2 separate regions of the Homo sapiens genome follow, and region 2 is linked to region 1. The links come from fine-mapping of genetic effects on gene expression. A gene starts in region 1. The other region holds a variant in brackets. All regions are shown on one strand. Distances are between the middles of the regions.

Region 1 (5,371 bases):
ATCCCATAAATATGTACAATTATCATGTATCAAATACAAAAATTAAAAAAAAAAATCCAAGTCATTGCCACTCTGCTTCTGTGAACAGGAAGCCTTTTTACCTTCAAGCCTTTCCCAAGTCCCTTCCATTTGTAAGGCCACACCTTTTCCTTGGGGAAAGAGGAAAGAAACACCTGTCATAAGGTTCAAGACTTCTCAGACACAATTGGAGGTATTCAGCTGTAGGTAAACACAAACCTGTAGGTAAACACAAAAGTGACTGAGGTCCAGAGCTTTGGGTTTCACTTATAACCATAAGCAACTGTGTACCTGCTAAGGAAGAAGGCTGCAGACCTGAAAGAGGCCCACGGAAGGCCTGGGGATTTCTGAGAGGACACCGGCTCAAGTTACATTCCCATATTATTTCACCACCCTCATGCTTGTTTATTTACATTTCAGGCTGCCTCTCTAGGCGAGGCTGCAGGAGTGAAGGGGCTGGAAGAGGTTTCAAAGGAGAGTGAACGTGGTAGAAAAGGAAATATTTGATTAGAAGTTAACATGTCCTCTGGGGCTTCTTTGACTTGGATTACTGTAAAAGTGCATGGTGTAATAGTTGAGCACTCCCGGGAGGTGGTGGGCGGTCTCTCTGTACAGAGTTGTGGCTTTGTTTCTGATGAGTTGCAGCTGCTGTGCATAATGTAGACTAGATCAAATGGGGCATGGAGAAGAGCCATTCACAGGACCGGAGTGACGGTGCTCGCTCTGATGGCAGAATACTAAATTAATCATCTTCACCTAAACCTGTGCTTTCTCCTGGCCTGTACCTCAGTGAATACCTGCAAGTTGCTTAGGCTGTAACTTGAAGTCAGCCTACAATCCTCTTTGTCTCCAGATCCTGTCCACTTTCCTTTCCGAAGGTCTTTCAGATCCATTTCCTTCTTTCCACCTCCACTGGCACTGCCCTCATTCAGAGTCTCATCATGTCTTCCTGGATTGCAGCTTCCTTCCAGGTCTCTCAGCCTCAAGTCTTAGGCCTCCCATTCAATTTTCCGTGTTACTGTCAGAGGAATTTTTCTAAACTAGCTTAAAACCCGTCTGTGGTTCTCCATGGCCTTCCAGATCAAATGTGCTCCCTGAAGACTGGCCTGTGAGCCCCTTCACACCAGTAATCCTGACCCTGCATGCAATTCCCAGAACACAAGGCATTTGTTCTCAAATCCTGCGGCTTTCTTTGCTTGCTTCTCCTCCTGCCTGGGATCCTTCCCATCCTCCATGGTTTCTCTCCTCCTTTCCTCCTCCTCAAGTTCAGATATTTCCCTCACCTGTACCCCCTCTGTTGTAGCATTTATCACAAACTACACTGAATCTCTTGACTGGGCAGAAGAATGAATTGTTTCCCAGCATCTAGCTTTGACATAAAAGTTGCTCAATAAATACTTGACGAATGAATGAACTCTATTAAAGTAGGGTTCAGTCATAGTTCAGGGAAGGGGCCCTGAAATAGCTGGCTCTGAAAGAAGGTAATGCCGGTTATTGCGATTATGTTGTTAGATGGGTAGAATTTCGCATTCGATTAAGGGATAGTTTTGGGTTTCTTCAAGCTAAAGAAACTAAAGCCTATAAAAGGTGATTTAAAAGACCTCTTCTCTAGACTTGATGAAACGCTGTAATTGCCATCTTTGGCTGACACTGAGGAGTTCAGGAATGCCAAGCAAGTGTTTCCAGAAATGTCAAACCTGCTGTTTTAAAATATGTCATTCCAGGGCACAGTTAAATATACAACTTGCTCCGATGAGGTGGGAGAAGTGGGCCGGTGAGCTGTGAAATGAAATCTGCCTAATGAGGGTCGAGGCCAGCACACACAGGGACCTATTTGCAGTAAAACAACGTGGGGTGACGCCTAAGAAATAGACAACATTAACACAAAGGGAGCCTACTACGTAGCACATTTCCGCTAGGCATAAAAGAGACACCTTTCCAGAAAGCAACTCTAAAAATGAATGCACCGCCTAGTGAGGTGCGAGCCTTCCTCCCCACGAGGCGTCCCGTGCAACCGCACGCGGACAGCGGGGCTCCAGCGGAGGCGGGGTGGATGCGGAGACAAGGCGCCTAGGAGACTGGGCTAAGGCTTTGAGTGTCCGAACGAAGATTCTTTCGAACCTATTGATTTTTTCTAGTCTTATGATTCTTTCGAACCTTTTGATTCTTTCCATTCTCGGTTCTAAGCATTAAAGCGCAGCTGAGAAAGGCAGCAACAAAGATGGGAAGAGAACTAGCAGGAGTTCTCAGAGAAAAATGGGTGATAATTTAGGGGAGAAGCCATAAAGAAGAGACTAAGCGAGAAGCGGAGCACACGCAGAAGACGAAACAAGGAGGAGGAGAAGAGAAGAAGAACCTTGGCGAAGGAAGAGAGTGACCAAACTCGTCCCGGACGGGAGGAGGGCAGGCCCGCCCAGAGGGAATCGGCTGCTTTAAGGGAAGCCCCGCCCCCTGGTGGTGACGCTCCACCAGGCCCGTCCGCGATTGGCTGCGGCCAGAGGGCGGGATGGGGTTGCTAGGCGAGGAGGGGATCCGGCGGGCCCCCGCCGCCCGGAGCGCTGAGCCGCGGGAGCGGAGCCGGGGTTAGCGGCGCTGCTGGAAGATGGCGAGCGGCCGGGACGAGCGGCCGCCTTGGCGGCTAGGGCGGCTCCTGTTGCTCATGTGCCTGCTGCTGCTGGGGAGCTCGGCCCGGGCGGCTCACATCAAGAAGGCGGAGGCGACTACCACAACTACGAGCGCGGGCGCCGAGGCGGCCGAGGGCCAGTTCGACCGCTACTACCACGAAGAGGAGTTGGAGTCGGCGCTGAGGGAGGCGGCGGCCGCGGGCCTCCCCGGCCTGGCCCGCCTCTTTAGCATCGGCCGCTCGGTGGAAGGCCGGCCGCTGTGGGTGCTTCGCCTCACCGCCGGCCTGGGGTCGCTAATCCCTGAGGGCGACGCGGGGCCTGACGCTGCCGGGCCCGACGCTGCGGGGCCGCTGCTGCCCGGCCGGCCCCAGGTGAAGCTGGTGGGCAACATGCATGGCGACGAGACCGTGTCGCGCCAGGTGTTGATCTACTTGGCCCGCGAGCTGGCGGCCGGCTACCGCCGCGGGGACCCGCGCCTGGTCCGCCTGCTCAACACCACCGACGTGTACCTGCTGCCCAGCCTCAACCCCGATGGCTTCGAGCGTGCCCGCGAGGGCGACTGTGGCTTCGGCGACGGCGGCCCGTCCGGGGCCAGCGGCCGCGACAATAGTCGCGGCCGCGACCTCAACCGAAGCTTTCCCGACCAGTTTAGCACCGGCGAACCCCCCGCCCTGGACGAGGTGCCCGAGGTGCGCGCCCTCATCGAGTGGATCCGCAGGAACAAGTGAGTGTTGCCTGCCCCCTCCCCGTCCGTGTGAGCCTCCAAGGGCCGAGGCTGGTTCCGGCACCCAGTAGGCGCTCAGACAATGCTGGCATAAGGGGTGGCGGTGGTGAAGGTGAAGGGAGACACCCTGTAACGGGGACAGGGCCCAGGCCGCGTAGCCTCCCGTCCTGCTAATCATCAAAGAATTGCCTCCTAGAGGCTGTCATTTGTTCAAGGGATGGCTGGAGGGGACACTCCTTTCTGACATTTCTGGTCCCTATTCTTACAGGGGCATAGAATATGAGCGAGAAGAGATCTTAAGGATAACCTAGGTCAGCTCACACATTTTATAGATAAGCTGTCAATGTTGTTATCTTATATCAAAAGTGCCTAATGTTATAGGCGCTGTGCTAATTTTTTCTGTGACTGCAGTATCTCACTTTATTTTGGCCACAACCTGATGTCATAGACACCATCAGTTTTGCATACGGGGAAATTGAGGGTCAGATTGGTTAACTGATTTACATAGGAGTGTGGCTGGGACTTAGAATTAGGCAATCTGATTCCCGATAGTCCTCTTAGCCACGGAGGGACACTGGAGCCCAAAAATGGCAGATGATATTCCCAGGATCTTCCCCTTGCCTATTTGACAGAAGCTGATTTTTCTCCAATTTTTACCTCTGACTCAGCTTAAGAAGATATGGACTTAGCTGGAGAACTTGCACAGATCTGTGAGCCGCTTCATTTTAGACTCTGAAGGGTTTGTGATGTCATTTGTGCACCTTATTAGCCTGGGCAGAATGGCTAATGGTCACACTTCTAATACACACTTTAAGTGTTATTAAGCATTGCATGAGGTTTAAAAAATTACAAAGTAGAAGAAGGAGGACCTCAAGAAATTAGTATAAAACAAGAGAATGTTATAAATATTTATGAGGTATGTTGGTGTACCCAGTTAAACTTTACAGGAATTGTTCCCACTGGCAAGATGTGTGTGGGCTGCAATAACACGGACCATCTCTGTGGAAGAGGTAGAGCTTGAGCTATCTCCAGAGATGGGCAGGATTTTCAGCAAAAAGGAGAGGAATAAAATAAGAGGGAACTCACTCCAGATGGCATAGTGTCTGAAGTGAGCAGGCATCTCTTCCCCTTTTCTAGCATCAGCTTTTCCCCATTTTTGTATCTTCATAAGGCTTTTGAAGCAATAACTGATCATTCCATCTGGATTAAAAGAAGATTTCTGAGGGACTGCTAAGATAAAGAAGTTTCCCTGCGGGACTTGGAATCATTTCTTCTACAAGATTTCAGTCATATATAGAAGATCTAGAAAATTCTTGAGTGTTAGGACAGTTCCTGAGTCTTTTCGTCTTCTATCTTTTACTTTACTCCTCTTGATAAGCTCTCTTGTAGATATATAATTTCACATAGACTTTCTGGGAGGATTTTTTTTTCTTTTAAATACGATCGTGTCATCACCTCTGAACATCTGCGTAAGAAATATGACTTTGACATACACTTATTGACAGAGCTGTGATGGCCAGGGCTTTTTGGAGATGATACAACAAATGCACCGTTTGCATTGCTTAAATGTTTAAAATGCTCTGTCCTTGCACCTTTAAAATGCTGTGATCCTTGCAGGGATGTAAATTCTGTGCCTGGATTTTTCTTTTCAGTATTAGTTGTGCTGTGACCAAATATGAAAATAAGCTTTTTCTTGGTGCAAGTCGCCTTGAGGCTATACAGAGTCATTTTGGTCTGTGGCTGTGGACTACCCTAATCATATCTGTTCTTCAAATATGTAACTCTCATTAATCAAAAGGGAAAGTAGGTGATCATATATGGTAAAGAGTACATCCATCCTAACTCAGTCTTCAAGAATTCACTCAAAATGCGTACTCTGTGCTATTAACCAATAACAAAGGACACTGATATGTGAATAAAATTAAAAACACAAGCACACACACAATTTGATATTGATGCCTAAATATAGTGTCAACTTTATGGATGGGATATTTTTAAATACTCA
Region 2 (5,371 bases), 180 kb after region 1:
ACTCTGCACATTGGTTTAGAACCATGGAGGACCTGTACACCCAAAGACTGAATTGGCGTGTGTGCAAACTGAAAAAAAAAAGATCATTCAGAGTGAAAAGGATCAGGCAAGTCACTGTACAACTGGGCTATTTGCATGTCACAGATGTGGATTTTACTGAAACATTTCTTCAACAGTCAAAGTCCCTGAAGAGCTCACTGCTTATCTGGTGAATCATCTGAACCTGAAATGGGATTTGTTGTTAGGGTTTGTAGACAAAGTGAAACTAACAGCATCTGCACAACACAAACCAAAGCCCCCTTTCTCTGTTTCCCAGGCAGCAGGAACTATTCTACATCCTCCTGGCATATTCGAAGTATAACCCAGTGAGTATTCCTGGCAGTGAGGTTCCCAGGCCGTATTTCCATATTCACAGGAGTGGGTGTCTGGTGGGAGTGTCGTTGCTTCTTTTAAAGTTAGTATTTGTGACCCACCAGGATATAGGAGGTAGGATTCCAGCTCACCGCTGGCATAAACCTCCAGCAAGGGGGTGGTCTCAAGGGGTCAAGCTGAGACACAGAGGAGTCAGGGCCTGGACTCCTGGTGTCACCTGGGCCTGACCACCACTTATCGGAACAAGCCCCTCCTCCTGGGGCTGCCCCAAAGCCCGGGAGCTTGGCAGCATCACACACAGAATGGTGCTATCAGGAGACATTTTGGACAAGGTGCTGAAGTGCCCGATGGATATGGCTCTTGTCATGAAATGAATTTGCATCCTGAGGAAGTCTCTTCTTCAGAGGAAGCCTTCCCAGTCACCTCTGCCCTCTCCGATGACATGAGTCCTCCCAGGTGACCTCAGCCCTCCCAAGTGACTTACTTCCACGGTGACTCTGGCTGTTGCAGGTGGTGGGCTACTGCAGGGACCTGAGCCACATCGCTGCCTTGTTCCTCCTTTATCTGCCTGAGGAGGACACATTCTGGGCACTGGTGCAGCTGCTGGCCAGTGAGAGGCACTCCTGCAGGGTAGGTGAACAGCTGCCCCTGGGGCTTCACGCAGCCAGACCCGGGGATGGCCACCCTGGCCAGGTGATCTCGGCTTTCAGCCAAGGCACCTTCCTTGTGTCGCCAGCTTGTTGGGAGCCTTTAGGACGTCTCTGCTGACGGTCCCAAAGGAACCCGGAACTGACCCCCCAGAGCCCAAGTCAGACGCCTTTCATCCCCATCAGCAGAAGGCATCTCATCCTCCCCGTGGCTGCCCTCTGTGTCCTGGAGCCACGCCCTCCGGCTCTGATTCTGTGCAGCTGGCTCTCCGCAACCTGAGAGTCCTCCTGCCCTTCAGTTGCTCAGGCTCCAGCTGCCCTTGGTACCCACGAAAGGGTACCAAGCCCAGATGGCAGCATCTCCCCATCCCGTGTCCCTTGGCCCAGCCCCACTTCCAGGAGACGACCACAAAGCCCAGCACCCACCCTGTTCTGGCCGCCCCCTGTCGTGGCCTCAAAGTCAGGCTTGCCCTCCCGGCACCCTGGCCCAGGAGGCCTCCAGGGGCACCTCCAGCCAGGCTCCAGGGGATGTTCCCACCCCTCCTCCCCAGGGCCAAGGCCACATGGTGGGGTCACCAGATGGGAGGGTGGGAGGCCTCGGGGTCTGGGGGGCTCTGCAGCTGCCCAGCTCTTCCAGCTGATGGCTCCACATCTTGGGGGAAGGCTCTGATTTCATGACGGGCTGGGGGCTTCTCAGGATTCCACAGCCCAAATGGCGGGACAGTTCAGGGGCTCCAAGACCATCAGGAGCATGTGGTACCCACATCACAACCCAAGACCATGGGGCATCTGGTGAGTTTATGGTCCCCTCGGCTCTTCCCCAGAGGCCCTGCATCCTGGGGGGCTGGAGGAACAGCGGGGGCTGCAGCCCCTCATGGGGCTGGTGACAGGCTGAGTCCCAGCCAGGGCCTGACCTGGGATGTCGGGTTCCCCATGGGCTGGGAGTTGGGTTTCCTTTCCAGCCCTGGAGGAGACAGAGGCACAGGGATGGGGGCCCTGCTCCCACAGAGAAGGGCTAAGGGCAGTGTGTCCACCGGGAGTGCCGGAAGGGGAAGATGTTGCGGGGAGCCTGGGACACTGCCCAGTGTTCTGCACTCGGGGAAGGGTCTTCAGAGGGCCCTGGAAGAGGGAGGTTTTTAGGGCAGCCCATGGGGCCCTGAGCACCTCTGTTCCTCCCATCAGGACAAGGAAGGTCTATGCACACAGGGTTCCTCATTCAGCTGGCTTCTCCGGGTGCTGAATGATGGGGTAAGGAGGCACAGGGAGACCCTGGCTCAGGGACCCTCCTTGCCCTGCAGTGCCCTGCTTCCCCAGCCAGGGGGTCCAGCTCACCCCAGTCCACAGGAGGCTCAGGCAGATCCCCAAAGGACACACAAGCAAGACCCTCTGCCCAAGAGGGCTCATCCCAGTGCAGAGGACAGGGCTCAGGACCAGCCTCATGGACAGACTGGGCCAGGACCCAACTAGGGAGGGCTCAGGGGAGCCTCAAGCCCTGGGCAAGCCCCTCTCTGCACTGAAATGAGTGCCCCCCCATAAGGAGCTGCAAGACCTTGTCTGACCCAGCCTCCTGGAGGGGTCGGGTGACC[C/T]TCATGGGGAAGGTCAGTGAAGCCCCAATGGGCTAGCTCGAGCCACCAGCCCCAGCCTGGAAGGGCCAGGTCCTCCCATGCCTACTTTCCCCACAGATCTCTCTCGGGCTCACCCCGTGCCTGTGGGATATGTATTTGCTGGAAGGGGAACAGATGTTGATGCTGATAACAAGCATTGCCTTTAAGGTTCAAAGGAGTAAGTCCACGTGTGCCCAGTGGGGCCTGGGGAGCACTGGGGTCAGACCCCGACTAGCCTAAGGGCAGCTTCCTCACACTGTCCTCATGATCCTGTTCTGGCCAAGGGGGAGGTCTGGCCAGGTGGGCTGGGCAGGGCACAGTGACACCGAGCCCATCCCTCACATGACCCAGATGAAAGTCAGGAGTGTGGTGAGCACTTCCCTGCCCAGGCCCCCCCAACCAGCCACAGCCTTCTGTGCACATCTGGACCCCTGGGGTGGCCACAAAAGGATCTGGCACTGCCCAGTGGGAGACTGAAGTGGTCACAGGGTGTGGGCTCTGACCCTTCCCAGGGAACTCTCCTGGCCTGATGCCCACCTTGTCCCTAGAGCGCCACATGAAGATGTCCAGGTCTGGCCTGTGGGCACGTTTTCAAAACCAGTTCTTCCATACCTGGGCCCTGGATGATGACACTGTTCTTTTTTTTTTTTTTTTTTTAATACTTGAAGTTCTAGGGTACATGTGCACAACGTGCAGGTTTGTTACATATGTATACATGTGCCATGTTGGTGTGCTGCACCCATTAACTCGTCATTTACATTAGGTATATCTCCTAATGCTATCCCTCCCCCCTCCCCCCACCCCATGACAGGCCCTGGTGTGTGATGTTCCCCTTCCTGTGTCCAAGTGTTCTCATTGTTCAATTCCCACCTATGAGTGAGAACAGGCAGTGTTTGCTTTTTGGTCCTTGCAATAGTTTGCTGAGAATGATGGTTTCCAGCTTCAGCCATGTCCCTACAAAGGACATGAACTCATCCTTTTTTATGGCTGTATATGTGCCACATTTTTATGGCTGTATATGTGCCACATTTTCTTAATCCAGTATATCATTGATGGACATTTGGGTTGGTTCCAAGACTTTGCTATTGTGAATAGTGCCACAATAAACATATGTGTGCATGTGTCTTTATAGCAGCGTGATTTATAATCCTTTGGGTATATACCCAGTAATGGGATGTCTGGGTCAAATGGTATTTCTAGTTCTAGATCCTTGAAGAATCGCCACACTGTCTTCCACAATGGTTGAACTAGTTTACAGTCCCACCAACAGTGTAAAAGTGTTCCTATTTCTCCACATCCTCTCCAGCACCTGTTGTTTCCTGACTTTTTAATGATCGCCATCCTAACTGGTGTGAGATGGTATCTCATTGTGGTTTTGATTTGCATTTCTCTGATGGGCAGTGATGATGAGCATATTTTCATGTGTCTTTTGGCTGCATAAATGTCTTCTTTTGAGAAGTGTCCATATCCTTCACCCACTTGTTGATGGGGTTGTTTTTTTCTTGTAAATTTGTTTGAGTTCTTTGTAGATTCTGGATATTAGCCCTTTGTCAGATGAGTAGATTGCAAAAATTTTCTCCCATTCTGTAGGTTGCCTGTTCACTCTGATGGTAGTTTATTTTGCTGTGCAGAAGCTCTTTAATTTAATGAGATCCTATTTGTCAATTTTGGCTTTTGTTGCCATTGCTTTTGGTGTTTTAGACATGAAGTCCTTGCCCATGCCTATGTCCTGAATGGTAATGCCTAGGTTTTCTTCTAGGGTTTTTATGGTTTTAGGTCTAACATGTAAGTCTTTAATCCATCTTGAATTAATTTTTGTATAAGGTGTAAGGAAGGGGTCCAGTTTCAGCTTTCTACATATGGCTAGCCAGTTTTCCCAGCACCATTTTTTAAATAGGGAATCCTTTCCCCATTTCTTGTTTTTGTCAAGTTTGTCAAAGATCAGATGGTTGTAGATGTGTGGTATTATTTCTGAGGGCTCCGTTCTGTTCCATTGGTCTATATCTCTGTTTTGGTACCAGTACCATGCTGTTTTTGTTACTATAGCCTTGCAGTACAGTTTGAAGTCAGGTAGCATGATGCTTCCAGCTTTGTTCTTTTGGCTTAGGATTGTCTTGGCAATGCGGGCCCTTTTTTGGTTCCATATGAACTTTAAAGTAGTTTTTTCCAATTCTGTGAAGAAAGTCATTGGTAGCTTGATGGGGATGGCATCGAATCTATAAATTACCTTGGGCAGTATGGCCATTTCCACAATATTGTTTCTTCCTATCAATGAGCATGGAATGTTCTTCCATTTGTCAGTGGATGACACTGTTCTTAATCATCTTCAGGCCTCTATGAAGAAACTAACAAGGAAACATGGGGACCTGCCACCCCCAGGTGGGCTCCAGTACCAGGTCCCTTCCTGAGTCACCTTCTGGGGCAGTCAATACTAGGGGAGTGCCCAGGAACCCCATCCCTACTACCTGGGTCTTCCTCTTCAGCTTCTCTTCTTCCTCTTCCTCCTGGACTCTAAGAAAGTACAGGAGGCCCACCATTCCTCAGGGCAGGCGCTCAGTGCGTGTGTACTGGACGTGCTGTGCATGCAGGAGGGGGATGTGGGCAAGACCCTCCAACAAGCCCCCTCCCACTTCCCACGGTAGCCTGTTCTCCCCCTCACAGGGCCCTCAAGGGCACTGGAAGAGCCAGACCCATTTGTGAGAGCCTCCACTCCTCCCTGCAAGCGCTGACAGCCTCAGAGAGCAGCAG

The links. PIP is the estimated chance that this variant, and not a neighbour inherited with it, causes the effect. A credible set is the group of variants that fine-mapping cannot tell apart.
Region 2: its variant is the best candidate, but not a certain one, in a credible set for the expression of CPD in whole blood (TOPMed, PIP 0.76).

The regions. Positions count from the first base shown.
Region 1 is chr17:30,376,361-30,381,731 of GRCh38, forward strand. It overlaps CPD (carboxypeptidase D), which reads left to right and starts at 2,567. Exons shown (of 21, transcript NM_001304.5): 1 at 2,567-3,366. The coding sequence starts at 2,621. RefSeq lists enhancers at 293-582, 833-882, 2,153-2,322, 2,468-3,395 and silencers at 2,373-2,612, 2,913-3,042.
Region 2 is chr17:30,557,916-30,563,286 of GRCh38, forward strand. It overlaps the pseudogene LOC100420311 and the pseudogene TBC1D29P. Among named protein-coding and RNA genes, the nearest start is that of GOSR1, 83 kb to the left of the region's middle. The variant C/T (reference allele first, on the strand shown) is at 2,606.